Regions from separate parts of the Homo sapiens genome. Here all the other regions are linked to region 4. Evidence: fine-mapped expression QTL. A gene starts in region 4. Each other region holds a variant in brackets. All regions are shown on one strand. Distances are from middle to middle.

Region 1 (7,546 bases), 220 kb after region 4:
CTACTCAGGAGGCTGAGGCAGGAGAATGGTGTGAACCCAAGAAGCGGAGCTTGCAGTGAGCCAAGATCGTGCCACTGCACTCCAGCCTGGGTGACAGAGCCAGACTCCATCTCAAAAAAAAAAAAAAAAAGCTAAATTATTCATAATCACCATCATTATTCACTATGTATCAGACACTTTATATATAATCCCATTTAATTCTCATAACAAATCTATGAAGTAATTATTATTCCCATTCTACACATCAGGAAGCTGAGACTCAAGAAGACCAAGTAAATTCCCCACAGTCATGATTACGGGGTTGGAAGTGAATGTCAGTAGTTTTGCTGTGCATAAACTTCAGGCTTTGTTGGATGAGCAGACCCGGGTCCACGTCCTGGCTCTGCTGTGCCAGCTGGCAGATGGACCACTTTGTGCATGTCTCTGCACCGCTCTGGACCTTCATTTCACTTGTAAAATTTCACCTAATAACACCTCCCTCATAGAGTTGTTAAATGAGAGAAAAGTATGTACTGTGCCAAGCACTGAGAGAAAAGTCAGCCTGAGAGTCAGCCCTACTCCTCTTTGCTGGAGCTCCTTCACTCTCTTTGTTTCCTCTCTGCAGGGGTAGGGCGCTGTGGCAGAGGGGCTGGTGAAAGAAACGCTGAATCAGCATCTGTGAAACTGACATCTGCAGTGAGGTGCACAGATTGAAATGCTGGGCCTAGCCGATTTAAGTAAGGAGCAGAGCAAGGTGGCTGCAGCGGTCCCACCCTGGAGGACCCTCTTAAAGGCGTCCCACCCTGGGGTGTGGCTCAGGTTTCTGCAACAAGACCTATTCCTTTCTGTGTGTGGGAGGCAGGGGTGGGGCTCGTCAGCATGATCTCTCCGTGGTTCAGAGGCAGCCACTCCTGCCTGTGAGGATGCCGGTCATGTGTGTGTGAGGTTGCTGCTCATCTACCAGCTCTCGCCCCGTTGGCCCCAACACACACACTAAAGCCATGGGCACCCTCGAGGGACACCTGCTGCCAGCAATGTTCTTCCTTCTCTACTCACTCTACTATATGGTGCTGGTGTCTCTGGCCCTGCTACAGGAACAGAGGCTCCTCAAACTCCCTCTGCCCTCCAGGGAGAAGTGAGGACACAGGTGGTGGTAGCTGGTGCCACTAGAAGGTGTGGTGAAGGTGGTCATCACCCTGGCTGGCATCTTACCCAAGTTATTCTACCCGTCTGGAGTAAATCGGCTGATGGTGGTAGACTGGGAGGATCCGCGGTGGCCATTCGTGTTCAAGGACAGCTGGCAGCACATCACCATGTACGAGTTCTTTATGCTCACTGGCGTGGTGGACATTGTAAGCCAGTCGTGTCAGGAATGGTAGAATATGAAGCTAGAGCAAGCAGTCAAGGCCTTGGGCTCCTATGTGCTGGCACTACTGATGGCAGCCCACATTGAGAACAAGGGCACCCTGGAGATCCGTGTGCGTGAGCTCTTCAGCGTGCCCCCCTTCCTGGTCTCCCTGGTGCTCACCATCAAGGTCTGGGTCCCTGACCAGCCCCAGCTCTGGGTGCTCAAGACCTGGGTGGGGCTGGGGCTCAGCAACTGGATGCTGCAGCTGTGTGTGCTGATGTTTGCGCCTCCCTCCGGACAGCCCTGCAGGTGGAGAACCCCATGGACCTTGCCTTCCTCACTCGCTTCTTCTCCTGGCACCTGGGCTTGGGGGCTGCCGTGCTGGCTGCTGTCTATGGCCTCTGCAGCCTCTGGCACCGTCACTGCTCCTCCTGGACAGCGTTACCAGGGGCCAGGTACTAGCCGTGCCTCACCAATTCCAGTGGTGAAGAGCTTGAGAAGCTCAGGGCAGAGGCTGTGCTGCTGGATGGAGGCGTCTAGGTACAGAAACTGTCTTTGTTCTATGCCTTTTGTAATGAGAGTTTCAAGGGTGCCCACAGCACGCATAGCATGGAAATGCCTTAGAATTCACAGGCTAGCTTCTATCTCGGGAGCCATCTTTCTCGTTCCCAAATAAACCTGCCAGCCCCTGGGGTAACTTCTCATCCATCATTCTCTTCTCTCCAGGTCTGTCTCTTTTCTCTCTCATTATTCTGGCCAAGCACATACATGAAATGAGAACAGGAGTGCTGCTTTTTTCTGGCAGTTTTCAGGATCCAAGAGGAGGAAATGAATTGAGGAAGTAGACAGAGAGGAAAGAGCGCCCGTAGACACCATATTTCTTAGATGGGGCAGGACTACGGTATGCACGGGTATGCCTGCAAATGAAGTCTCTCAATGTGTGAAAGACAGGGGGTCCGTTTTTCCATAATGGTGAAGTCTTCTGTTTTCTCAATTTCTCTGTTTTTTATTCACTCTCAGTATGGCAGTATGAGGAATTTTCATGTTTGTTTTTTGTTTGTTTTCGAGATGGAGTCTCACTCTGTCACCCAGGCTGGAGTGCAGTGACTTGGTCTCGGCTCACTGCAACCTCCGTCTCCTAGGTTCAAGCAATTCTCCTGCCTCAGCCTCCTGAGTAGCTGGGACTACAGGCACCCACCACCATGCCCAGCTAATTTTTGCATTTTTAGTAGAGACGGGGTTTCAACACGTTGGCCAGGCTGGTCTCAAACTCCTGACCTCAGGCGATCCTCCCACCTCAGCCTGCCAAAGTGCTGGGATTACAGGCATGAGCCACCGCACCCGGCCATTTTTTGTGTTTTAAACCTAAACTAAATGAGGCCACTTCTGCCTTATGAGAGAGGAAGGAATGAGAAGCTTGGGCAGTTGCAGGGGGGTGTGGTTCCAATCAATTTAGCAGGGGATCAAGAAGAGGGAGAAAGGAGGCCACGGAGGAATTCCAAAGCTGCTTGTCAGAAATGAAGGTGATTTAAATATGATTTTAAATTGTTTGTGTTTTTCTGTGATACAAAACAACTCCATTGTTCCAACTCATTCAGTAAAGTCTATTACATGTGTACACGTCTCATGTGAGTGATTCTGAGGGAAGCCAGAGAAAGAGCCCATATCTCAATTGACAGGAAAAGAACACGGAGGAGGGGGAAAGAATTGCCATGAAATGGGGTGCAAGTGATCTCAGTGCTTCTGAAGACACAGGAACTCAGAGCTGAGAGAGAATCTGAGGGTGTCAGTCCCCTGGAATGTGCAGGAATATTTTCAGATCTTTGGTCTTCTCTCAGAATGGGATGCTAATAAATTCACATATTTGGTGAAATATATGAAAGCAAATTATATAAAATTACATATCTCTGGGTACAGTTAGGAAGCCATTGCTTCTAATAGTATGAGTCAGCTTAAGTGAGATGGACACACCCAGCATTTAGAAATCTGAAGAGGCAAAAAGAAAAGAGATGCTGGCCATAGATGTGGAGAAAGAACCATAGAGAAAAGTCCCCATGATGAAGCTGCTGCAATTACAACACCCCGTGTGCAGCCTGGAATGCTCTCCTCAGACCATGAGAAGCTTCAAGAAGCACAGAGAGGTTTGCAGGATGGCAGACAAGACAGACTGCACACTGTTATTTGAAAATATCATTGGATGCACTCTAAAGAATCGGTGTAGACCAGGCGCAGTGGCTCACACCTATAATCCCAGCACTTTGGGAGGCAGAGGTGGGCAGATCTCTTGAGGTCAGGAGTTTGAGACCAGCCTGGACAATATGGCAAAACCCTGTCTCTAAAAACATACAAAAAAAAAAATAGCCAGGTGTGGTGGCACAGACCTGTGGTCCCAGCTACTCAGGAGGCTGAGGTGGGAGGATCACTTGAGCTTGGGAGGTAGAGGCTGCAGTGAGTCGTAATCATGCCAGTACACTCCAGCCTGGGTGAAAGAGTGAGACCCTGACTCAAAAATAAATAAATAAATAAATAAATAAATAAATAAATAAATAAATGAGAGAGAGAGAGAGAGGAAGGAAAGAAGGGGGGG[A/GGA]GGGAGGGAGGGAGGAAGAAAGAAAAGAAAAGAAGGGACAAGACAATTGGGTGCACTCTAAAGAAGCAGTACACAAGAGCACAGAAAACAGGCCGTGGAGACTCTGGGACAAGGGGTTGATATTAGAGAAGGGGAGAAGGGAAAGGGATAAAGAAGGAGCCAAAAATCTGGCCACTCACACTGGCAGGGCTTGGATGGGAGGGAAGACTCTGGATCTTAGAGGAAAACAAATGTGTCTCTCAAGCAGCTGGAACCAGGCCAGCCCCAACTTTCCTCCCCAGAGGAGGAAGAACCAACCCAGGGAGAGGCCAGCACCTGTCTTTCTCTCCCCACCCCAAAAAGCCCTGAAGCAGAGCCAGATATACCGGAACTAATTAAGTTTAAGCTTCAAGGCCCTTCACCTTACTCATCCTGTCCAAGGCCCTGGGAGAGGCTTTAGCAAGGTGTTCGCATGATCCGCATATCACTGAGAATTTGCAAATGTACTATTTTTGTGTATTCTTTTTTCCTAAAGAGGGTCCTTTAAATTGTGTAAGCATTCGGCCTCACAAAGCCTGGCTCTGCCCTCACCCTGGAGGCTTACCACAGATATACTTCAGGATGCTTTATGATAAACACATCCCTTCACCTGTTCATGGAACATTCTTTGTTAGAGAATCCTTCCTTCTTCAACTTGAAAACAAGATACTTATAACGTTAATGACCTCAAACACTGGCTGAAAATCAACGGCTATAGTATAATCCCTCTGACAAAAAATGTGAATAAGTGTTATATGATCCTAGGTCTGAATTGATAAAGAGGAATTAGAGTTGCAGAAGACTAGAGGGAAAGGTGGGAGTGAGGTAAAGAGGTTAGTCCTGCATACACTCACTTGTGCTGTTGTGGGGAGAATTTTTGTCTGCACATCTGGCCCTTGCCCAGTGTATTAGGGTTTTTCAGAGAAACAAAACCAACAGGATGTGTAGATAGATGAATGGATGAGTAGATAGACAACAGGGATTTTAAGGGGCAGGCTCATGCAATTGCTGGTAGTTAATAGGGATCTTAAGGAACCATCTCATGCGATTGTTGGGGCTGGCAAGTCCAAAATCTGCAGGGCAGGCCAGCGGATGGGAGAACAGTGAAGGGTGATGTTGCAGTCTTGAGTCTGAAGGCAGTCTGGAGGCAGAATCCCTTCTTCCTTAGGAGACCTTATCTTTTCTCTAAGGCCTTCAACTGACTGCATGAGACCCATGCACATTATAGAGGGTAATAGGCTTACTCAAAGTCTACTGATTTAAACATTAATTATAACCCAAAAATACCTTTATGGCAACATCTAGACTGATGTTTCACCAAACAATTGGGTGCCAGAGCCTAGACAAGTTGACACATAAAATTATCCTTCATATCCTGCATATTGGAGTATGACCACTCCGGCATGATTTCCATCAATTGTATTTGTCGTGATTTTTGGAGCCCTTCCATAATAATAATAATAATTCATTTTTACTTATTTATTTATTTTTGAGATGGAGTCTCACTCCATCACCCAGGCTGGAGTGCAGTGGCAAGATCTGGGCTCACCACAACCTCTGCTTCCCGCGTTCAAGCGATTCTCCTGCCTCAGCCTCCTGAGTAGCTGGAATTATAGGCACCCACCACCACACCTGGCTAATTTTTGTATTTTTAGTAGAGATGGGGTTTCACCATGTTGGCCAGGCTGGTCTCAAACTCCTGACCTCAGGTGATCCACCCACGTCAGCCTCCCAAAGTGCTGGGATTACATGTGTGAACCACCGTGCCCGGCCAATAACTTCACTTTAAAGGAACTTAAGGCCAGGCATGGTGGCTCATGCTTGTAATTCCAGCACTATGGGAGGCAGAGGCTTGTAGATCAAGAGGTCAGGAGTTCAAGATCAGCCTGGCCAAGAAGGTAAAATCCCATCTCTACTAAAAATACAAAAAAAAAAAAAAAAAAAAGGCCCAGTGTGGTGGCAGGTGCCTGTAATCCCAGCTACTCGGGAGGCTGAGGCAGAACCCTGGAGGCGGAGGTTGCAGTAAGCCGAGATTGCTGCACTCCAGCCTGGGCAACAGAGCGAGACTCTGTCTCAAAAAAAAAAAAAAAAAAAGGGAATTTAATCACTATAAGTTCTAACTGCAGTTCTGACTGTATAATACTATATGGACCTCTTCCCTTACATATTCTCCCTAGTGCGAGAGAGAGTGCTGGGTGTGCAGGTAAGTGACACTTACTTACTTATTTATTTATTTTTGAGATGGAGTTTCACTCATGTTGCCCAGGCTGGAGTGCAATGGTGCGATCTTGGCTCACCGTAACCTCTGCCTCCTGGGTTCAAGCGATTCTTCTGCCTCAGCCTCCTGAGTAGCTGGGATTACAGGCATGCACCACCATGCCTGGCTAATTTTATATTTTTAGTAGAAATGGGGTTTCTCCATATTGGCCAGACTGGTCCCGACGTCTTGACCTCAGGTGATCTGCCAGCCTCAGCCTCCCAGCATGCTGTAATTACAGGCGTGAGCCACCACGCCCGGCCAGTGACACTTATTTTTAAAGATTAAAAAATAATATTTAGAGGCCAACAGCCTCAACCAGGGCATACATGAAGCCTTTCCCTTTTTTCCACTATAAAGCTTTCCCACTCCTCTACCTGCTTTGGATTCTCTGTCAAAACACAAGTGATGGTGGCCAACTCCCTTGCTATAGCAAGCTCTGAATCAATCGTCTTTGCTTGTTCTCATTTGGTTGATCTTCATTTATTTCCAGCAATTCAATTCTTCCCTTTATTCATCTAAGTAGGTATTCAATATTTATTAAGCATCTATTATATGCCAGACTCCATGCTAGGCCCTGAGAATAATGAAGTGACCCAGATGCTAGGGTCCCTGACTTTAGGCTGATTATAGTCCAGTGGGAGGAGAAAGGCAAATAAACAGTAAGCCGAGCGCAGTATGAAAAGGGCTGTGACGAGGGCCAGCTAACCAGACTTGGAAGTCAGGGAACATATCTGAGAAAAGTGATGTTTCCACAGGGGCCTGAAGCATGAGTATGGCCAGACCAAGTGGAGAAAAACTGGGGGAGAGGGAAAGAAAGGGCCACAAGCAGGTTGCCAGACCACAGAGAGCATGAACATTCAAGGATGTGAACAAAAGCGAGATGGCTGAACTTGGTGTTTGAGCTGGGAGTGGTGCCACGGAAAAGCAGACAAGGGTCAGTGTCCTTCTGGGCCACATGAAGTAACTTTGCACTTATCCTGAAGTAATTATCAAATACCCATTTTGGAATATGGCTTCATGTGGAATGAGGCCAGAAGCAGAGCAAACCTGGAAACTTAGGAACCAGTGTGGAATCTAACAGGTGATGGTGGCCAGATAAGGGGAAAGAGGAAATTGCATGCATTGGAGAGCTGATTTAAATGGCTCCTGACGGGATGTCGGGGCTTGAGACTGGTGGGCTGAACAAGAGGGGGAAGGAGCCACAGGCTGGGCAGCTGGGAGGAAAGTGGACACAATCGCTGAGATCATGAAAACCAGGGCAGGGAGGTGGAGAGCAAGAGATGAATTCTGGATGGAGAGATGCAGTTTGAGGTGTTCTGGAAGCAACTAGATGTATGAGTCTGGAGCTCCAGAG
Region 2 (7,546 bases), 35 kb after region 4:
ACATCTCAATTGGGATTGGCCACAAGTGCTCCATAGTCATGGGTGGTTGGTGGCTGCCATATTGGACTGTCTAAAGGGACGGGTGACCTGGAGCATCTTGAGCAGATAATAAGAGCAGGTGGTGGGGGCTGAGGACTTTCAGGCAGTAGGGAATAACCGCGGGTTCTTGAGTGAGAGAGTATCCTGGCACAGCGCTCTCACGCTGTGGAGTTTGGAGGCTGCCAAGGAGCTAGAACAAGAAGTTCAAGGACAATGAGAGATCGAAGGAGGAAACCCCAGCAGATGACCAGCCCCACAAGTAGGACTGGGAGCCTTGGCCCTTGCCCTCACCTGAGACTGGAGGAGACCCCAGACGGGGACTGTAAGTATGAATTTACCTCCATGGGGAGGTAGGCAGGTCACCTTGGCAGGCCCTGGTTGGGAGAAGGCTGTTGAGGACCCAGGGGCTGTTTTACGGTTCCTTTGGCTCCCCATTCACGGAAGCAGACTCACACCAGATCCCTCCTGCCTGCTCCCCCCACCACTCCTGCAGCCCATAAAGGGTAATGAAGCTGAAGTTAAAACAGTCACATGAAACCCACTCATTTGAAAGGGCACCTGCTTTAAAGGCCAAATTTCCTGAGCCCAGGTTTATACATTAAGCTACAGAAAGACCTAATTAATTCAGACCCCACTCACTCTGAATTTGGGATAAATTCTGCCTCGGGCTGGTCTGAAGTCTTTCCTTTTGCACTATCTATGAAGAAATGGTTTGCTAAGCAAATAAATAGTGCAGGCCAGATTACAGAGACAGGTCTGGCTTACTTAACTGTTTTTAAGAACTTTAAAAATCACTTTAGCAGCCTCATTCCCAGAAAGTTAATGAGATCATTACAGCTGGTCCTTATCTATTTATTTCAGCATTTCAGTTTTCCAAGCACCTTTATACCCATTAGTTAATGTGACCTGGGGTGGGGAATCCTGTTATTTCTCAGCTTCCAGCAACAGACTTAGTGCCTGGCACACAGTTGGTACTTAATGTTTGCTAAATGAAGGAAGTAGGCCTGGTAAACAATACTAGTCCCATCTTACAGATGAGAAAAAATGAGGCTCAGAGAAGTTAGTTATAATATATTCTGTCCTGGCCACAATGGCTTTGGGGTGTCCCTAGAGCTAGACCAGCCACATAGCTAGTTAGTGATGATATCAGAGCTTGAACCAATGCTGGTTGCGGGTTTCTCTCCACTCTATTACATGTTACCAGGGCTGCTGCTTGACAGCAGTTTATTATCTGAGTTTGAGGAACAGTCTGTTCTTAGGGACCACAACAAAAAAGTCCCATTTTTTTTTTTTTTTTTTTTTTTTTTTGAGACGGAGTCTCGCTCTGTCGCCCAGGCTGGAGTGCAGTGGCGCGATCATCTCGGCTCACTGCAAGCTCTGTCTCCCGGATTCACGTCATTCTCCTGCCTCAGCCTCCCGAGTAGCTGGGACTACAGGGGCCCGCCACCACGCCCGGCTAATTTTTTGTATTTTTTAGTAGAGATGGGGTTTCACTGTGTTAGCCAGGATGGTCTCGATCTCCTGACCTTGTGATCCGCCTTCCAGAGTGCTGGGATTACAGGTGTGAGCCACTGCGCCCGGCCCATTTTTCTTTTGTAAATTGCATTTTCCCCAGGGAAAGGAATCACTGCGTTCTGGAATGTGTGCCTCCGCACTAATCAGCAACAATCCCCTTCTGTGCAGCACCTGACTCTGACACAGGCCTCCTGACACCCGTGGCCCTTGGGATGTCAGGGCCAGTACAGGTCACTTTCCTCCCTGGGGTGGAAGAAATGGGGGCTGCTGCAAATCTATCTGGTCCTGGCTCCTCCGGGGAGTGCTTCCCGAGGCACAGGCCTCCCAGGAAGGATGGTCTTTGTCCTCTGGGTATACCCTTCCCCCACATCAGGGGAGCAGCCTCTGTGGGCTGGGTCTTTCTTGCCACTTATGGGGGGATAGGAAGAGGCCGGTCTCTGTCTCTCTGCCCTTTGTTCTGGAGGCTTGGCTGACTTGGAACACTGCGCAGGGAAAATTCCCTGACCGTGAGATCTGCAGGCTGCAGGGTCCCTGGGGAAGGCTGGCCAGGGGCTCTTTCGAGCTGCAGCTGGAAAGAGGGGTTGGGTTTCAGCGAGCCGGGCTCGGGGACGGCAGCCCGCCTCCCTGGCGGTAAGGGAGCTGGCCCGGCGAGCCAGCTGTGCCTGACAGCTTCCTGTCGAGAGCTGAGGGCCCACATGACCGCTCCCCACTTTGTGGATTAGGGGGCGAAAGGCCCAAGAGGGAGGGAGAGCAGGAGGGGCACTCAGGTGCTCTCTGGCCCAGCTGGGGATGGGGTGAGAAGCAGAGCACCAAAACATTTTTTGTGAAATGAATTCTGCGGGCTCCCGGTCACACGGTCCAGCAAGCTGGCTCGCCCTGGAGAGGGGGTGTGGGGCTGGGGATGCGGTGAGCCTTGGCACTGACTGGGGCCATGGACTGTTTGTTTAAAGTCCCCCTCCCTGCAACCTGACTACACACATCCCCACAGTGTCTGCCAGAGAGGCAATGTGGTAGCCACAGCGCTATGTGTTGAAGAGGAGATGGGATCTGGCCGTGACGCGGGAAAGAACCCAGGCCTGGATTAAAGGGCAGTGCACGCTCTGACCACCCTGGTCTCTCCCGAACTGGACCCCCTGAGCCAAGGGCAGCTGAGGCCAGAGAACTGGGCCTCCCACTGAAGCCGTCCTGACCAGGGATGCCAGGCCTGGCCTAGAGATGCCCCGTTCTGTCCAACAAGCGTTTATTGAGCACCTACTGTATATGGAAGTGTGCACAGAGATAAGTCAAACACAGCCCTGTCTTAAGGAGATACGCTTGAGATGATAAGCTCTGAGTATGACAGGGTGCAGTGCAGGCACACAGAGAAGCTTGGCACCCCAGGGTGCAGCCTTGGGGTTCACAGAGGGCTTCCTGGAGTCAATGATGCCTCAGAGGGAGGAGGAGGCCAGCAGGGCGGTGAAGTCCCTAAGGACCCAGTTTAGCAGTGGGTTTCTGGGGACAGTTGCAGATCCCCACCTCATAGGCAGACCTGTGCACACCTGCCCTGCCATCACCACGTAAGAGTGGCCTAGAACCCCAAAGGTCTCCGGTGAGGAACAGCAAACTGGGCACAGGCCTTGCCGGGGTTTCTGGGTCAGCTGAGCTCACTTCCCCTGTCCCTGGTCCACACACCTTGAGAATGATGCAATAGATGTCAGGGAGAAGGAGGGGGTGCCGTGCAGCCCACCAGGTGTGGGCCTTCCCCTTCACTGACCTCTAAACAAGACCCCACAGCCCTGGGGCAAAAGCCCCGGGCACCGACACTTCACTAATATCTGAGCTTTTGTGCTGTTGAACACCAAGGAGCCTTGGCCTCCTCCCTGGAGGGATTTCTGGTGCAGCTATCGGCCCTGTAGGTGATTTTTGTTCCAGCTCTATCTCTATTGTTTACATAGCTCAGAGTTCCATGGAGTGAGAGAAACATGCTTTCCTTTCCACTAAAGGTGCTATGAAAAACAGCCGGTCTGTGGAGGGGCAGGAGGGAAGGCCGTGTGTGCTGTTCGGCCCCTCATTCTGACAGGCTCTTCTGGTCTCCAGAGTCCTCTCTGTCCAGGATACCTGTTTGTCACGCTCTCCCTGGAGCTGGCTCAGCTGGAGGCTCTGGGACTCGGAAGGAGCCCCCATTCTAGAACTCTCACTGGGAGTTCTGGCTCTACGAATGGAGTTGTCCCTGCATGGAGTCCTACAGGCCTGGATGCCACCAAAAGAGGGGGCAGTGGAATGCTACTCCCCCTCTAATCTGGCCACCAACTGCCACCTTATCTGCAGGCCCTGACAAGGGTGACAGAAGCTGATGCCTGGATGTCCAGCAGGCAGGACGATGGGAGAGCGGAGGGGGCAGATGGTAGAGAAGGAGGCAAAAAGCAGCCCCACTCACCCTGGGGAGGGACCGAAATCTCCTGCTTTAAAGCCAGCAGGTTCCGCCTCTGGGTATTCTCTCCAGCACCATTTTTCCTTCTTCACTACAGAGATTTTATTTCTCTCTTGCTTGGTTTGAGAACTGTCCTGATGCAGCGGGCAGATGTCTGAGTACTTGAGGGCTCCGGTGATGACTCCTCAGGGTCTCCGCCTGAAGACTTGGTTCAAAGCTCCCAGCCCTCTAGCAGACCTCACCCCTGCCTCTTACCGTTTCCTCTTTCCTTCCTCCTGCAACTTCCCCTTTCTCTGCCTGCATGCAGCCCCTGTGTCTCCAGCACATTCTCCTTTGGGTCTCCGCGTCTTTGGCACTCACGTTCTGCATGTTACTTATCCTGTCCATCGGCCAACAAGCAATGGGTCATGTCACTTTACTTCCCTGGTTTTCATGTCTATGAAATGGTAAAAGTCATGGATGGTGGTGGGTTGTCTGGTGGTCTTGAGAGTCCCTGCAAGACCTTCTACCCTAAGATTTGAAGTATTTACTTATTGATGCCCTGATGCCTGAGCGGGCATTATGGAAAAAAAAAAAAA[G/AAG]AGGCTGCCCAATACCAGCCTGACCAACATGGAGAAAACCCGTGTCTACTAAAAATGCAAAATTAGCTGGGCATGGTGGCACATGCCTGTAATCCCAGCTACTCAGGAGGCTGAGGCAGGAGAATCGCTTGAACCCGGGAGGTGGAGGTTGCAGTGAGCTGAGATTGCACCACTGCACTTCAGCCCGGGCAACAAGAGCGAAACTCTGTCTCAAAAAAAAAAAAAAAAAAAGAGGCTGCCCAATATGTGCACTGGGACTCTCTACCCTTCTTCATTCGAGGCCAGCCTAGGGCTGAGGAGTGATCCCTTTACAGATTCAAGCTGCCACAGGTCAAATGATAGAATGGCGTGCAGCAGGATGGGGAAGCCCAGTGGGAAACGGGGCAGCAGGATGGGCTGGAACAAGCCTTCAGCCCTACCTCTCTCCTTTGACTACTCCAAATATTCTTGACTTCTGAAAAATTCCCAAATGTTTCCGAGCCAAGAATCCCCCAAAGGAGTGGCTCAGTGTCTGGGGTTACAGAGACTTTGTTACTGCAGCAAAGCATACTACAACCCATTTACTGGTTTAATTTAATTATTTATGATAACACTTCAGAGTAAAAACTACACTTGTCAAAATAAAGGGGACTTTGTGCTGCAGTGACCCAGATTTTATTGTTGCATTACCTAATGCACCGAAACCTGGTAATCGGCACCAGATCTCCCTGCCACTTGGGCAAATCAGCACTGAATGAGGAAGGCTGAAATGGATTACTGCTTCCTGGGGGAATTATTTTCAACGATTCAAACAAAATGGCATTTTGATTTTCTTCCTCCCACTCTAGTTGCATCCCCTTTCCCCCAAATAACCTGGTTTCTACACATATATTTGACTGTTTGCCGTTACCTCTGTGCCCTTAGATCACCTCCCTTTCTTTGCACATACAGTTTCTTCTGCCTAGGATGCCTTCTCCACCACTCACTAGACAAATCATTCCTAACCATGTCGGCACAACAGATTCCCCCATGCATTTGAGAAGAAATTCAGATTTGGCCAGGCACGGTGGCTCACGCCTGTAATCCCAGTATTTTGGGAGGCTGAGGTGAGTGGATTACCTGAGGTCAGGAGTTCAAGACCAGCCTGGCCAACATGGGGAAACCCCGTCTCTACTGAAAATACAAAAATTAGCTGGGCATGATGGTGCATGCCTGTAATCCCAGCTACTTGGGAGGCTGAGACAGGAGAATCGCTTGAACCCAGGGGTCAGAGGTTGCAGTGAGCTGAGATTGTACCACTGCACTCCAGCCTGGGTGACAGAGTGAGACTCTGTCTCAAAAAATAAATAAATAAATAAAAGAAACCCCGCCTCTACTGAAAATACAAAAATTAGCTGGGCATGCTGTCGCGCGCCTGTAATCCCAGCTACTCAGGAGACTGAGGCAGAAGAATTGCTTGAACCCAGGAGGCGGAAGTTGCAGTGAGCTGAGATTGCACCACTGCACTCCAGCCTGGGCGACAGAGCAAAACTCTATCTAAAAAAAAAAAAAAAAAAGAGAGAGATAGAAATTCAGATTCCCGGGAGCCACACTGAAGAACTCCCACCGAGCTTAAATCTTGCCTCTCTATGAAGCCACCCCTGGGGTCCATGCCCTGTCCAGCACTTTCTCCTCCGTGGCTCACCAGCCCTCTGCCCTTTCCCCGACAGCTTCTACTCCTTGACCATAAGTCCTCTGAGGGCAGGGTCTTTCTCTTTTACCTCTGTATCCTCAGCAAGCATAGTGTCTGCCCACGTGGAAGTTCAATAAAAGGTGGCCGGTTGCATGTTGGGCAGTATTTTGAGGAATTAAGACTTTGCTGGAGTTATTCATACTAAGGTCAGAGCACCAACTTCTGTCCTCACCCAGACCCTGAGCCCCTCTCCTTCCCACCTGGAACCTGCAGGTCCACATTCTTCCTTGGGCAGAAATGGCCTTTTTTTTTTTTGGTTGAAAGACCTTTGAGGGTGAGAAATTCCCGGCTACACTGTGTGATGGGGCTTAGGGAGATGTGGATTCACAGCAGGGTACAATGGGCATGTAATCTGGCCTCACCATTCACAGCAAGCCTGTCAGGACCAGCTTCAGATGCTTACTCCTTATTAATGGCCCTCCCCTGAGTCCCAAGGCTAACAGGTTCTCTCAATACCCTACTGCCTCCCTCAGCTCCTGACACTCCATTATTCACAGCAGTGACCGTGGTGATGACAGCCTAGGTGACCCATGGCAAAATCTAGTGATAAGTAAGGAAGGGAAATTCACCTGTGGAAGGCCCCATCCACCCATCCATCCATCCACCCATCCATCCATCCACCCATCCATCCATCCACCCATCCATCCATCCACCCATCCATCCATCCATCCATCCACCCACCCATCCATCCACCCACCCACCCATCCATCCATCCATCCATCCACATAGTCATTTATTGCTAAGTCAGGAGGACACACACACACACACACACACACACACACACACACACACGACAAAGGAGACCTGGTCTCTGCAATTAAGGTGCTTACAATCTAGTTGGGGAGACAGATAGGAGTTACAATTCCAGTGCCCCAATCTCCATCCTCAACAACTCCATCTGTAGTAATTTCCCAGCGTTGGTGCTTTACGTTCACAAAGCACTTCCCGTCTGAGCTGGGGGTCCTCCCAAGGAGAGGAGGAGCACTCCCCAGTTTTGCCATCTCTAAAACCAAGTTGGAAAAGGTGGGCTCTGGGGTCCCTTCCTGCTCCAGTCCAGGTGGGTTTCTTTAGGAAGAACTCCTGGTACAGGAACTTCTTGGGACCCACAGTCTGCAAACTGATGGCTTCCTGGAGGTGTTTCCTAAGCAGCCAGGACTTTTCAAAGAAGACCTGATAAGCCATGAGGTCAGAGACCTTGGGGCTACTCAAACCGATTGCTGCATGCTAGAATTGCTTGAGGGCCTGAGGGGAAGAAATGGCAGTGCCTGGAACCCAACTGAATCAGTAGTTCCT
Region 3 (7,546 bases), 76 kb after region 4:
CCAAGAATCTAGCCAGCAAAGTAATTGACGTGGAGAAGGGAAGATCAGAAAGAAGGTGAGGCTCCCTTGATTGGGCCTTGAAGGCTGAGCAAGATTTTGATAGCAGGTGAAGGGAATCAGGTATTGCAGACGGGGTTCCAGATGCCATCAGGCCTCAGCCCATGCCTTAATATTCTTGAGGCTTTTATTGGCTTAATTTTCCATGTGCAAAATGAAGGGTAGAAAAGCTCCACATGTCCCAGGGAGATGGGGTAGGGGTGGAGGAGCCCAGCCTGCTGGGCCCAAAGTAGATGGTGTGGCTTGGCCCAGAGCAGCCCACACTTTCACTAACCCAAGCTGCGGTCAAGGCCTCTTTGTCCTGTGTCCATGGCCCATTTCTCAGAATACACTGGGGCCACAATACACAGAAGCCACAATCCACCCATGGGAATTCTGCCCAGTGATCTCTGGAGGAGAGAAGCAAATATTGGGGCTGTGGATACTCAAGGGTTAAATGGAGTCTTTCAGACTCAAAGAACAATGAAGGTCAAGAAGAGAGTGATCAGACGAGCTTGCTGGAGGTGGCACCTGGCCAGGCCGGACAGTCAGCATTCTTCCACCTCTCTCTGCCACCCAGTCCATGACTCTTCCTCTCCCACTCAAAACCAGACCTCCAGGTTCCCACCATCCAGCCACACACCCCTCACCCAACCTGGCTGGGATCACCCATCCACCCAGAGGTCACTCAACGTCTTTTGAGGACTTGGGCGCCTGGCTCAGGGTCTTCTTCTGTCTCCCACCTCCTGCTGTCAGTCTGGGGGACCTGAATGTCCACATGGACTTCCCAACACCCTCACCCTTGGCTCTCCTATCTCCCCTTCCCCAACGACCTTCTCTCCATTTCTGCCACCCACATATCACCTGAAACGTCTCCTGTGAAATCTTAAACTCCAGCACCCCCATCTTGGGCCACAACTTTTTCCTTCCTTTCCATAAAACCTGGTCTCCACTCGCAGAGATTCTCCAATTCTCCCGTTCTGTCTCACTCGTTCGAGCACCGGTGCTGCAGTGCCGGCTTTGGACAAGGCCTTCCGCCAGCGCATCTGCTCCTTCCTGGCTCTACTTTCTCCTCTCTTGACCTGCCTGTGATTGGCCACATCATTCATTTTCCCGACACCCTTGATTCCCACACCCCCTCACCCTGCCTTTCCCAGCCCTGGAGGACTCCAGTCATCTGCTTTGTCCATTGCAATTCCCAGGCTACTAGAAGGCATAGGAAAACCACTCAACCGTGCAAACTAGTGCCACTCCAGATTTATGGTCCCTGACTTCAGCCTGGCCCTTCAGCTCCTGGGCTGCTGGTGATCAGCTCCTGTTCTGAAACTTACCACCCTTTCAGGCTTCCGGCCTGTCCCCTCCGTCATGTGTAATTGACAGAGAAAATAGAGATTCTCAGAACTCCCTCAACTACCCTCTCCTCCTCTTCTTTGCTAACCACAGACCCAACCCCACCTCTTCCCAAGACCTAGTTTTCACTCACAGACCACCCAGCCCTGGTGCAACTTGCTCCTCCCTTAGCTGCTGCAGCACCACCCTCTCTTCTGGACCTTCTCTTATTTTCCATCATCCCTTCCCTCTCTCTCCCCTGCTTCTCCTCTGTCCACTGCCTCTATGTTGTGGTTCCTAGAGCTCCAATTCTTGTCTTGCCCTGCTCCTGCACCCCTGATATTCTCATCTAAACCCATGGCTTCTTGCTCTAGTAATTCTGATATCTGTGGCTCATGTCCAAGCTCCACATCCTGGTGAACTTGGATGTTCACCTGTGTATCCCTAGGCACCACCAAAGCAGCATGTCCCCAACTAGTCCTCTTAGCTCTTGCCTCAAACCTCCACCTCCGCAGTCTCTGGATGTTGAGTTAGAGCATCACCTTCCACCCAGCCGGCCAGCCAGAGACCTGGGAGTTGCCTCAGCTCCGTCCTGACCCCTCCCAACACCCCACACAACATCCTATGTATTCTGTCTCAGACATGGTTCCCAAATGCACCCTCTCTCTTCCGCCACACTGCTATGTTTCTTTCCTGCTGCATCATCTTTTGCAATAACCTCTAGTTGCTCCTTGCTTCTGACTATCTCTCACTTTTGTATTTAAGCCAAATTTCCTTCGATGGCCCACAGAGGCCTTCACATTCCAACACATCCAACCTCTCTCTGCTCACCTTCCCTGCCTCTCTCCCTGCCAGCCCCTAATCCAGCTGCCTCCTGGACAAGCTAGAACTGCTCTTAACCCCATGATCATCCATCTGCTGAACCCTCTGGATGGGATAACCTCTCTCCCGCTTCCTTGACTGGGAAACTATTCTTCCTCCAAGATCCACCTTCCCAGACACCCCAGCCCCTCAGGCAGAATTAACTGTGCTCTTCATTCTGTTTCTCTGTACTCAGTTTATCCAATCTACAGCTGTTGGATATTCACTGGTTCCAGTCTGGGGCCTTCATGAATAATGCCTGCCACGAACATTCTTGTACACGATTCACCTCTGGAGTACACATGTCTGAATTGACTGCTTAGATGCTGACCGGCTGCTTCTGAAGAGATATTTGAGAACTCCTGGTCCAGATCTTCACCAGCCCTTCGTTTTATCAGACTTTTACATTTTTGCTAATCTGGAGGGTATGTAGTAGAATCTTCTTGGGATTTTAATTTGCATTTCTTTGATTCCTGATAAGGTCACACACCTCATATATTTATAGCCATTTGGATTTTTCCATATTTATGCATTTGATCCAGTTTTTCCATTGAGTTGCCAATCTTCATACTCATTTGTGGGAGTTCTTTACACATTCTGGAGCTGAGCCCTTTGTCAGTTGCATGTGTTGCAAAACCTTTTCCTGCTCTGTGGCTTCCCTTTTACTCTCTTCATGTTGTCTT[C/T]TGAAGAACACAGCTTCTTCATTTTAATGCACCCACATTTGTCAATCTTTTTCTTTATGGTTAGTGTTATTTTTGTGTGTTGTTTAAGAAATCTTTCCCTACCCTGAGGTCACGGAGATTTTTTTTACATTGTCTTATAAAGGCTTTCTTGTTTTGCTTTTCAGATTTAGGTCCTTGCTCCACCTGCAACCCCACGGCACTTGGTACTTATTTCTGTAGCACTGCTAACTCCATCTGTTTATATGTCTGCCTCCTCCACTAAACAAAGACCTCCTTTAGGGCAAACTACAAATCTGTGTTTTAAATCTTTGTATTCAGAGGTCCTAACACAGTGCCCGGCACACAGTAGGCACTTTATCAATGCCCTTGAGTGCCTGGATTGCAGAACCGAGGTACAGCTGCTTCCAAACAGGAAGGCCCTCTCTTCTCAGGAGTCCCACTTTTGCTGACTCTTGCCCTCCCATCAAAAAGCACATGTGTATACTGAGTTCATGTGTGCTGAATGTATGGCACAAGTGTGTACTGAGTGCCTACTGTGTGTGGGTGCTGGGCACAGTTTTAGTGATGCAGAGCCAAAGATGGCGAAGTCTCAGCCTGTACAGTACTCATCACCTGGCACCTGCTTTCCTGACGCAGTTCAGAAACCCCCACACTGATCTGGAAAGCAGAGAGTCCTGGGTGCAAATCCCAGCTCTGCCTCCTGTCATCTGCACCACTCTGGGCAAGTCAATTCAGTATACTGGGTTTCAGCTTTCTACTTTGTCAAAAGGGAAAACAACAGATAACTTTGTGGGTTGTGGTGAGGACAGAGTGGAAGAATAAACATGAAATGCCAAGCGGGTGCTGGAGGCATGGTAAATGTCTAAAGATTGTTGAGTTGAGTAAATGATGGAATGGATGAGTCAGTGAATGAACTGGTTGGGAGGGGGGATGGGCAAGGAGAGCTAGAATTGGGAGGGGCAGTAGGCAGGAGGCAGGGGCTGCTGGGTTCTCCTGCAGGCCTTCCTTGTCATAGTAACTGCTGTCAGCAAATGTTTCCCAGACAGGAATCCCCTTCAGGGCTCCCTTCCCCAACCCACTGCATTTGTTGACTCAAAACCTCCCCACTGCCAATTTAGCCTGCAGTAAGGAAGCGGGGTGGGGAGGGGGAGAGAGGTGTAGGAGGGAGTAAAGCTGTGCAGAAAGGGGTCTTTGTCTGAGCACTGTGTGGCATTTCAGATTTCGGTGGAGGGGTTTTTGTTGCTTTTTTTTTTTTAACCTCCTAAAGAGTTGAGTGGGCTGCACTTGCAATAAGAGGTATCAGAATGAGACAGCAGGGAGGACTTCCAGTGGGCTCTCTGTATTGGACGGTGGAACAATGGAATGGACTGCCAAGGGCCTGGGGAGTCTCTCTGAGGCTTAGACACAGATGCAGGTGCGCTGTTCCCATGGAGGAACTCTGAGGGTCTCAGCCCTGTGCTCCCTCCACAGCTCCTCTCCTTGCTGAGGTGAGAGGTTCCATGTCCAGGAAGCTGTTTTTTTTTGTGTTTTTTTGTTTGTTTGTTTTTTGTTTTAAGGAACAGGGTCTCACTATGTTATCCAAGCTAGTCGTGAATTCCCGGGCTCAAGCGATCAGCCTCCTGAGCAGCTGGGACTACAGGCATGTGCCACGACACCCAGCTCCCAAGAAGCTGTTCTGAACCCAGTAGCCACTGGGCCATCCTGCTGCAAAGCTTAACTGGGGCCTCTTGCCACGTGCTGTTCTCTGGTTCCAGCTCCCTCTCCTGGGGCTCCTGTTGGGGCAGCCCTGGATCCTGGAGGGTTCACAGCTGGACCCAGGCTTTCCCCTGACCCCGCAGAGCCCTTCCACGCAGCCCTACTTCAGGCCTGCCCCATCAGCCTGCCCACCACCCCTGACTCACGTCAAGGAGAGGAGCCGACAGGCCCAGCCTCCCGCCACCCAACCCCAGGCCCTGAGCGTCAGGCCTGTGCCTTCTCCTCCCCGACACCCTCCCTCCACCTTTAGGTGGCTTCGTGCCTCCTCCACGCATGTGCGTGCCTGTGTTTATGGGCTTCTCTCGGGCTGCCCTGTGCCCTCATGTCTGTCTGTGTCTGTGTTTCTGTCCCTGCCTCTCTCTCCCCACGCTGCCTCACTCCTTTCTGTCCTCTCTGTCTGCCTTCCTTTTTGTCTTCTGGTCTGTGTGTCTCTCTCGGACCCTGTCTTTCTTTCCATCAGTCTGTTTCTTTGTGCGTGTCTCTAAGTCACTCTGTCTCTCAGTCTGTCTCTGAATCTGTCTGTCTCTCTTTCAGCGTATGTGTCTCTGTGCCCCCCTCTCCTCTTCTCTGTCTCTGTCCCTGTTGCCGTGTCTCTCTCTGTCCCTCTCACTCAGCGTCCCTGCCATGTCTCTCATGCTCTGGCTCTCCCTCTGAGCCTCTTTCTTCTGGGCACTCAGCAGGCCAGTGTCAGAGTCAGATCCTGGCCAGCCGCCAGACCACTTGCCCCGGTGGCCCGCACCTCTGGCATCACCTCTGGGAGCAGGTTTCCTCACAGCTGCCAGGCGAGAGCAGGCCTTGTGGCCCCCAGTCCTGCCCTGAGAGTGGAGTCCCAGGGGCCTACAACCTGCCTTCACTCAGCGCCTGCTAAGGGCTCCTTTCTTCCCGTCCCCTCCTCCTCCCTCTTCCCGACTTAAATTCAATGCCCTGCAGCCCCAGTCCCCAAAGTCGCTGAGTCCTGGCTGTGAGCCCAGTACCACTCAGAGCTCCACAGGGGCATGGCTGCAGGAACTCCACCCTGACACCCTCAGGAGCTCCCAGGCCAGCTGGGGTGGCCCCACACCCGCACGTAGAAAACAATGTGGACAGCACAGGGCAAAAGAGTCAGGGCCCAGTGTGGCCACAGACTGAAAATCCCAAAGGAAGGGAGACACGAGTCAACATCAGGGAGGTTAGATTCAAGCTGGACAGGACTGTGTCAAATGGAGATGGCCAGAGAGGACATACGCATGACAGGACCCTGCCTGGCACAGGCGTCGAGGATGGACTCATTAAGGGACCCTGAGCTGAAGGGTAGTGGTTTCAGGGCTGGAATTAAAGTTTGTACACACCCTTGAGAGTAAAAAGATTAAAAACGATTCTCATGGAGGTATGTGTGGGGAGGCAGAAGTTTTCAGAAGTGAAGATGATATCTAAATTGGATTCCAAATCCACTCAAGGTGAAGGAGAGGGAAAAGCTATTTCAGGCTAAAGAGCCAGCAGAGAGGAAGGGAAGGGCTCAGAGAGAGTGGTGGGAGGGACATGGGACAGAACGGGGGCCCTGGTGCGGCACCCCAGGGCTCTAGACTCTATCTGCAGCTGCCAGGGGAGCGTTTTGAGAAGGAGAGTGACACTATACGCTTTTATTTATTTTGGCTTTTTAATAAGTTACTGGCAGCTGTCTGGAGAAGGGATGGGCAGGAAGGGAGACTGAGGGTGGGAAGAGCAGCTAGCAGCTCCTGCAATAGTCCTGGCAAGAGCCGAAGAGGGGCCTGCTGGGGCTGGGTTCATGGGAGTGGGGACAAGAGGACACCTTCAGAGCACCTTCTGAGGCAGACCAGAAAGGGTGGGGCAAGGAAGAAGTGGGGGTTGTCTGAAGCTTCCGACTTCGGGACACCAGGGAGAAGGAGAGGTTTGGAGAAAAAGACCAAGCACCTTGGGGTTGAGATGTCCACGGGACTTCCTGGGGTGGAACTCCCTCCTTTCCACTCAGGGCAGCTGGACATAAGATATGGAGGCCTACAAGTGGCCCGGGTGGCAGAGAGAGGTCTAGGAGTTGGTGGTTCCTGAGGCCAAACAGAGGCTGAGCTTGGGGCCGGGCGAGGTGGCTCACACCTGTAATCCCAGCACTTTGGGAGGCCGAGGCGGGCGGATCACCTGAGGTCAGGAGTTTGAGACCAGTCTGGCCAACATGGTGAAAACCCGTCTCTACTAAAAATACAAAAATTAGCCAGGGGTGGTGGCGGGAGCCTGTAATCCCAGCTACTCAGGAGGCTGAGACCAGAGAATTGCTTGAACCCAGGAGGCGGAGCTTGCAGTGAGCCGAGATGGCGCCGCTGCACTCCAGCCTGGGCGACAGAGCAAGACTCTGTCTCAAAAAAAAAAAGAAGCTGAGCTTGGGTCTGATCTATTATGGCTGGTTCCAGCTCCAAAGCAAGAAAGGGGTACACAGTCACTCCAGAAAGCCCTGAGTCCACTTCCCCAGTGTCTTCTCACCCACAGCCCCACCTTCCCACACCCTACACACACACACACACACACACATATGCACACACGTGTGCACACAGAGAACCGGATCAGCAATGGCACCCAGTGTTTCAGGCCAACCAACAAGCATTTTCAAATGCAAATTCCCTCCTTCCACCCCCACTCGTTCCTCACACAACTGCTCTCTGAGCAGCTGGGGGCAGAGTCGGGGAAGGGGGGGATGAGGGGCAGCAAAAATAAATCCCATTTTCTGCTCCTTTTCAATGCTGGGCAGCAATCCCCTGCTGCCTCCCCTCCCTCTCCACAGATGGGGGATTAGACTGGCCTCAGGTTCGGCTCTGCCCGAGGGGAGGGTGACAGGCAGGGCAGGGGCTGAGCTGGGGAGGGGTGCAAGTGTTCAGTGACAGGGCTAAGAATAA
Region 4 (7,096 bases):
TTCTTAATGGTGGAGCACTTTAAACGCATATTTACATGTATAATCTTGATTGAACTTCAAAATAACTCTGTAAGGATGGGCAAAGCAAGGGTTGTTGGGGCCTAAAGATGAGGAAAAGGTGGCTCAGAGAGGTTCAGCACCCTGTGCAAGGTCACAGAATGGGCGAGTACTGACCTGGTTCAGCACTTTGTCCCAGGAAACCTCCTCCGCGTCTCCACAGAGTGCTGGGCATTTCAGGACAGCTCAGCTGCAATTCTGCTTTTCCAGTGGAACATCCTTCTCTCTTCCACGTATGAAACTTTACGAAGCACTGTGGGCTTTTGAAGACTCTAGTCTAGGCTAAGAAGGATCCTCTCTCAAGAAGATTCCAACCCAATAGTCATTAAAGCATATGTTTCGTCATCTCCCAAACCAAAGGCATATATCTTTTGTCCCTTTTAAAAGTTTAGGTAAGGAATGTGTTAAAAGTCTGCCTGTTGCCGGAAATGGTGGCTCATGCCGGTAATCCCAGCACTTTGGGAGGCCGAGGCAGGCGGATCACGAGGTCAGGAGATCGTGACCATCCTGGCTAACACGGTGAAACCCCATCTCTACTAAAAAAAAAAATACAAAAAATTAGCTGCATGGTGGCAGACGCCTGTAGTCCCAGCTACTCGGGAGGCTGAGGCAGGAGAATGGCGTGAACGTGGGAGACGGAGCTTGCAGTGAGCCGAGATGCGCCACTGCACTCCAGCCTGGGCGACAGAGTGAGACTTCGTCTCAAAAAAAAAAAAAAAAAAAAAAAAAAATTCTGTGTGTCCGGTTACATGGTGGACATAACAAAAAAAAAAATGGGAAAAATTATTGTTTGCATTCCTTCCACTGTAACATGGTAACATCTAGCGATCGGCAAGTGGTAATGCAGAGTCCATTCACCTTTCTTACTCCTCGCCTCCTCCCATACCTAAAGGGCTGTTCATTTTTTAAAATCCTTTTTTATTTTTATAAATTTTGAGGTATGATTCATACACTATGAAATGCATACCTGGCTGGGCATGGTGGCTTACACCTGTAATCCCAGCATTTTGGGAGGCTGAGGCAGGCAGATCACTTGAGGTCAGGAGTTTGAGACCAGCTTGGCCAACATGGTGAAACCCCGTCTCTGTTAAAAATACAAAAATCAGCCAGGTGTGGTGGCAGGTGCCTGTAATCCCAGCTACTTGGAAGGCTGAGGCAAGAGAAGCACTTGAACCTGGAGGCAAGGGTTGCAGTGGCAGGGGTTGCAGTGAGCTGAGATTGTGCCATTGCACCACTCCAGCCTGGGTAACAGAGTGAGACCCTGTCGCAAAGAAAAGAAAAGAAAAGAAAAGAAATGCATAGCTATTAAGCGTACAGTTTCACAAGTTTTGACAAATGTATACCTACATCCAAATCAAGACACAGAACGTTGCCATCACCACTGAAAGTTCCTGGATACCCCTTTCCAGTCAACACCACCCCAGGCCTCCACTGTCCTAATTTCTATCACCATAGATTAGCTTATCCTGCCTCGAACATCAGATAAATGGAATCATATTATACGTATAATCTTTTGTATCTTTCATCTGTCACTCAACATATCTGCCAGACTCATTCACATTGTGTCAGTAGTTTGTTCCTTCTTATGAGTAGTATCGTCATTTATTCAGTTCTTAAAATCCAGCCCTATTACCACAGATTTGTCCCTCAAAATTCTTTTCATTTAATATATCTTCTGCATGCTCCTTTCCGTGCATGTATCTCCTGCATATCTCCCTGGCAATCCTTGTAGTGAGGAAAATATGTAAGTGGACTATTTTATCTCTAGCACTGTCCTTTTAGGTATGGGTGGCTCTCTCTACCTTCAGGAAAAACAGATAACCAGGCAGTCTTGCTTCAGAGTTTACAGATCTGGGTTTTCATTTCTTGTCTAGCACTTAACAGATGGGTGGTTCAGGGCAGGTGATTTAACCTCTCTGTGACTGTTTTCCCATTTGTAAATGTGGATAATAATACCTTCTTAATAGGGATTTGTGAGGACAAAATTATATTGTACATAGAATGTTTGGCACAATGAAAACTAATAATAGCCTCAAGCTAGGCTATAATAAACATCCTCTCCTGCTTCATTCACATACTTCCAGGTTTGTAAGTCATATGATACAAGTGGGTATAAATTTTCAAAAGTTTTTAAAAGGAAGATTTCATATTTAGATTTAGAAAAGTCTATCAGATATTTACTTAAAATAAGTAACTGTTATTTCCTAGGGAAAAAAGTAAAGCCTTCTGTCATTTATTCATTGGCAATTATATATCGAGTATTGACTAAGAGAAGCTCTTCAAAAGAGTTAAAAACATAGCCCTAGCTTTTAGGATGTTTGGTTTGGGGAGGGTAATAAGATAAGCACAACAAATTATAATACAAAATATAGTAAATGATAATAATAATAATTAACATCTATGAATGTAGTGGTTAAGAGCACAGTCTCTGGAGTCATACTATATGGGTTCACATCCCAGCTGTGTGATGTTGGGCAAGTTACTTAACCTCCTTGTGTGTAACCTCACCTGGAAAATGGGGCTAATACCACTTACCTAGCAGGGCTACAGTATCAGAAAAAAGTGGCCCAGGGTGTTTGAGCATCCTGTACAAGGTCACAGAATGGGTGAGTACTGACCCGGTTCAGTGCTATGTCCCAGGACACCTCCTCCGCATCTCCACAGAGTGCTAGGCATTCCAGGACAGTTCATCTTGCAATTCTAATATTGTATATTGCATATAAAAATATGCATTAATTAACAGCTAACATGTATTGAATATCAATATGTGCCAAGCACTGTGTTAAATGCTTATGTGCATTACTTCACATAATCTCCACAATGCTGTTACTACTATTATACTCATTTTACTGATAAGGTAACAGAAGGGCAGAAGTTTAGGTAACTTGCCCAAGATTACATAGCTAGTAAGTAGCAAACTGTGTCACAGAAAAGATACAATCATCTATAAAATGGGGATGATGGTATTAGTACCTACATTAGTGAGAATCTGATGAATTAATATTTGAAAAGTGATTAGAACGGAGCCTGGCACCTAATAAAGCCTATATATGTGGATGTTAACAATTGCTAAGGTGATTCAGAGATGACAGTAAATAACTTCTATGCGTGGTGACTAAGGAAGGCTTGGGAAGGTGATGTTTAAACTGGGCCCTGAATAGTGGACAGGATTTGGAGAAATGGAGGTGATAGAGAGGGCATTTCTGACAGGGAAGGAAGGGAGGGAGGGAGGGAAGAAGGAAGGAAGGAAGGAAGGAAAGAAGGAAGGAAGGAAGGAAGGAAAGAAGGAAGGAAGGAAGGCAGGAAGGGAAGGAGGGAAGGGAGGGAGGAAGGAAGGAAGGAGGGAAGGAAAGAAGGAAGGAAGGAGCAAGAAGCAGAAGAAAGCTCAGAGTGTGTAAAAAGAGAAAAAGAAAAGAAATACATGGGAGTAGTCAAATTTGACTTGCGCAAAAAAAAAAAAAAAAAAGAACAAACTTCCCCTTTCTTCCAACCAGTCCCTATTCCTGCTGTACTTCTCAGTATTTTCCTCTTATCCCCATGGAATCTGCTGTCCTTACTCCCTCATCATAATGATCCATTGAATATTTATTGAGTTCCTCTCCGTGTCAGGCACTGCTCTAGGCACCGAGGATACAACCCAGTAAATAGGCCGGGTCCCAGTTCCTAGTTTGCACTATAATAATCCTCCAAACTGGATTCTAGCTTTTAGCCGGCCGAACTCCAATCTATCTTCCACAATACCGCCAGAACCGAAGACACAGATCTGGTCTGGACACTCACTTGCTTAAATCCCGCTGCAGTATTTTCTCTTTACGTCCAGAATAAATTTCAGTCTCCCTAGCATCCTTTACTAATTGGTTCGCACAGTCTTACCTCGCAGCCTTCACCGTGCACTCTGCACAAGAGCCCCGGTAAAGCACTGAAAATCCCAGATACACACACTCACAAATAGGCACTTGCAGAAAGAACGTGGGGGGCACTCCATCCCTATTTCATCTCTTGTACACCGAAACATTCCCCAGTCTGCATGCCTTGGATGGGAGAGTCCTGGTTACATTCCCCCGCCCCCGACTTTTCAAGCCTAAAATCCGTCACAGGGCGCACCCCCGTCCCCACCCTCCAGGGCATTTCCACTTATAGCAGCCTGGGCACACCCCCAACCCAGAAGGGACCGGAAAAGGAGGGGCTGCGCGCGGCACTAGGGTCGCCGTCCTGGCTGAGGTGGCCGGAAGTGGCCCCTCGCGCGGGCGCGGACTGAGGCTGCGCGCCGCAGGTTCCGGCTGCTGGCGGCGTTGCGGCCGCAGGTTTGACTCCCGTGCGGTGCGGCCCAGCAGCCACAAAGCTCCCGCTGCCATTGCTCCTTGTACTCCCGCCGTCACTGCCGCTGTCCAACCCCTCCCCCGGGGCTTGCGCGGCGGCTCCCACACCCCTCGGCCCGTGTACGCGCTCTGCACCTGCCTGCCCGAAAACATGTTGCAGACACCAGAGAGCAGGGGGCTCCCGGTCCCGCAGGCCGAGGGGGAGAAGGATGGCGGCCATGATGGTGAGACCCGGGCCCCGACCGCCTCGCAGGAGCGCCCCAAGGAGGAGCTTGGCGCCGGGAGGGAGGAGGGGGCTGCGGAGCCCGCCCTCACCCGGAAAGGCGCGAGGGCCTTGGCGGCCAAAGCCTTGGCAAGGCGCAGGGCCTACCGCCGGCTGAATCGGACGGTGGCGGAGTTGGTGCAGTTCCTCCTGGTGAAAGACAAGAAGAAGAGTCCCATCACACGCTCGGAGATGGTGAAATACGTTATTGGAGACTTGAAGATTCTGTTCCCGGACATCATCGCAAGGGCCGCAGAGCATCTGCGGTATGTCTTTGGTTTTGAGCTGAAACAGTTTGACCGCAAGCACCACACTTACATCCTGATCAACAAACTAAAACCTCTGGAGGAGGAGGAGGAGGAGGATCTGGGAGGAGATGGCCCCAGATTGGGTCTGTTAATGATGATCCTGGGCCTTATCTATATGAGAGGTAATAGCGCCAGGGAGGCCCAGGTCTGGGAGATGCTGCGTCGGTTGGGGGTGCAACCCTCAAAGTATCATTTCCTCTTTGGGTATCCGAAGAGGCTTATTATGGAAGATTTTGTGCAGCAGCGATATCTCAGTTACAGGCGGGTGCCTCACACCAATCCACCAGAATATGAATTCTCTTGGGGTCCCCGAAGCAACCTGGAAATCAGCAAGATGGAAGTCCTGGGGTTCGTGGCCAAACTGCATAAGAAGGAACCGCAGCACTGGCCAGTGCAGTACCGTGAGGCCCTAGCAGACGAGGCCGACAGGGCCAGAGCCAAGGCCAGAGCTGAAGCCAGTATGAGGGCCAGGGCCAGTGCTAGGGCCGGCATCCACCTCTGGTGAGGGTTGGTGAAAAGTTGGCCAGTGGGTCCCCGTGAGGACGAACTACTGTCCTGAGTCATAAGTAATATGGGTGGGGCGAGGGTCTTATTTCTGTAGAAATCGTGTGACTTTAAGGATTTAGATTTTGTATCTTATGTTTTGTAACATTTAATAATTACTGTTAAAATGCTGTTTGTAAATGAGATTGGTCTACTTTTTCCTGTAGGATTTTATTGTAGAGTTTTGCTGGTTTTGTAAAATGGATGGAAGAACTTTGTATTTATACTGTGATTTTGAACAGATTATGCAACATTGGAAGGAAGGCTGTACTTTGATGGTTTGAAGGAACTCAGCAGTATGATGATCTGGTTCCAGGGGAAAAAAATAGCTGGTTGGTGTCTAGCCCCCCAACACTTTTGTCTGTTGTGTATAAAAGAAGAAAGACTGGCATGTACCTTCATTTGCTTAGCTATTTGAGTATCTAGAGAAAAATTAAAATGCAATGAGTTAGCAGTATACCCTGGCACACTTAATAAATTAAACATTTGTGGAGCATCTTGTTTTCTGTGATGCACTGTGTGGGCACTTGGGGATAGAATACTAAACAAGATAAAGGTCCTACTTTTTTTCAGAATTGAAGAGTAAGTAAATAAACAAGAAATTAGCAGTGCAATGAGTTGAAGTCTACAAAGGGATACTTAACCCAGCTGGGATGATTGAGTGAGGTTTGCTGTAATCCCAGCACTTTGGGAGGCCGAGGCGGACTGATCACCGGAGTCAGGAGTTCAAGACCAGCCTGGCCAACATGGTGAAACCCTGTTTCTACTAAAATTACAAAAATTAACCAGGCGTGGTGGCACACACCTGTAATCCCAGCTACTTGGGAGGCCAAGGCACAAGAATCTCTTGAATCTAGGAGACGGAGGTTGCAGTGAGCCGAGATCATACCACTGCACTCCAGCTTGGGAGACAGAGCAAGACCCCGTCTCAGAAAAAAATAAGAAATAAAAATAATGATTTCAGATCACAGCTACTCCTCAGTAATGTGAGCAGACTTGATACATGGCAGATCTGGGAAATACTCTACCTTTGCCAGTGCTGTCTTTCCAGACCAGATTGTTAACAGTGCACAAAGATGTTGACTGTCAACTTTTTGGCCCTTTCTGTCTCCTTTTCAACCTCTACAGGGTTCCCTCCTCTACCAAAGCCCTCAGAGATCAAATAATGTAACACCTCTGGAATATTATGTAGTGTGGATGAAGGGTACCTAAATCTACTACTACCAAGAAGTTCCACTTCAAGATTTCTCCTCTGGCACCAGGAAGCCCAGTTCCCCCTTCCATGTTTCTGCCTGCTGCTTTCCACCTGCCACCTCCCATTTACAGGAGACTTGTGAGGTATCCCTCCCCTTCATGTTATCCGTGGAGAGTCATCTGTAAGGAGCTCTGGCTTCTTCAATGCCCACCACCTTCTGCGTGAGGGTAAATCCTGTAGAAAGGGTACTTAGAATAATAGGGAATTTAGAGAAGTGATTCCCAAACCAGAGAGTGGGTGAGGGTCGGGGGCAGGGTGGGCGGATGGTGAAACTTCCCCTGCAACTGCCATAAACAGAAGAGCTGCTTTCTTTTCTCTTATCAATTTTTTCTTCCAGTTGTGTCCAAGTAAC

Alleles and levels. Alleles are on the strand shown, and positions count from the first base shown. SD is a standard deviation of normalised expression in the study named. Not every link is listed here.
For the expression in skeletal muscle of the gene that starts at base 4,285 in region 4, allele A in region 1 goes with a lower level than allele GGA (large effect, 1.5 SD a copy in FUSION).

The links. PIP is the estimated chance that this variant, and not a neighbour inherited with it, causes the effect. A credible set is the group of variants that fine-mapping cannot tell apart.
Region 1: its variant is the best candidate, but not a certain one, in a credible set for the expression of MAGEF1 in skeletal muscle (FUSION, PIP 0.59).
Region 2: its variant is the best candidate, but not a certain one, in a credible set for the expression of MAGEF1 in whole blood (INTERVAL, PIP 0.52).
Region 3: its variant is the best candidate, but not a certain one, in a credible set for the expression of MAGEF1 in whole blood (TOPMed, PIP 0.87).

The regions. Positions count from the first base shown.
Region 1 is chr3:184,493,805-184,501,350 of GRCh38, reverse strand. The region is part of intron 2 of LINC01839 (long intergenic non-protein coding RNA 1839); the gene reads right to left. It also overlaps the pseudogene TEDDM3P. Among named protein-coding and RNA genes, the nearest start is that of LINC01839, 22 kb to the right of the region's middle. The variant A/GGA (reference allele first, on the strand shown) is at 3,915.
Region 2 is chr3:184,673,820-184,681,365 of GRCh38, reverse strand. No RefSeq gene overlaps it. Among named protein-coding and RNA genes, the nearest start is that of MAGEF1, 34 kb to the left of the region's middle. RefSeq lists enhancers at 2,208-2,713, 2,714-3,218. The variant G/AAG (reference allele first, on the strand shown) is at 4,543.
Region 3 is chr3:184,633,264-184,640,809 of GRCh38, reverse strand. No RefSeq gene overlaps it. Among named protein-coding and RNA genes, the nearest start is that of MAGEF1, 75 kb to the left of the region's middle. The variant C/T (reference allele first, on the strand shown) is at 2,910.
Region 4 is chr3:184,709,253-184,716,348 of GRCh38, reverse strand. It overlaps MAGEF1 (MAGE family member F1), which reads left to right and starts at 4,285. Exons shown (of 1, transcript NM_022149.5): 1 at 4,285-5,985. The coding sequence starts at 4,528. The coding sequence ends at 5,451. LOC107986163 (a long non-coding RNA gene) reads right to left here and starts at 4,106. Exons shown (of 5, transcript NR_160768.1): 1 at 3,931-4,106; 2 at 175-1,318. RefSeq lists an enhancer at 5,026-5,085.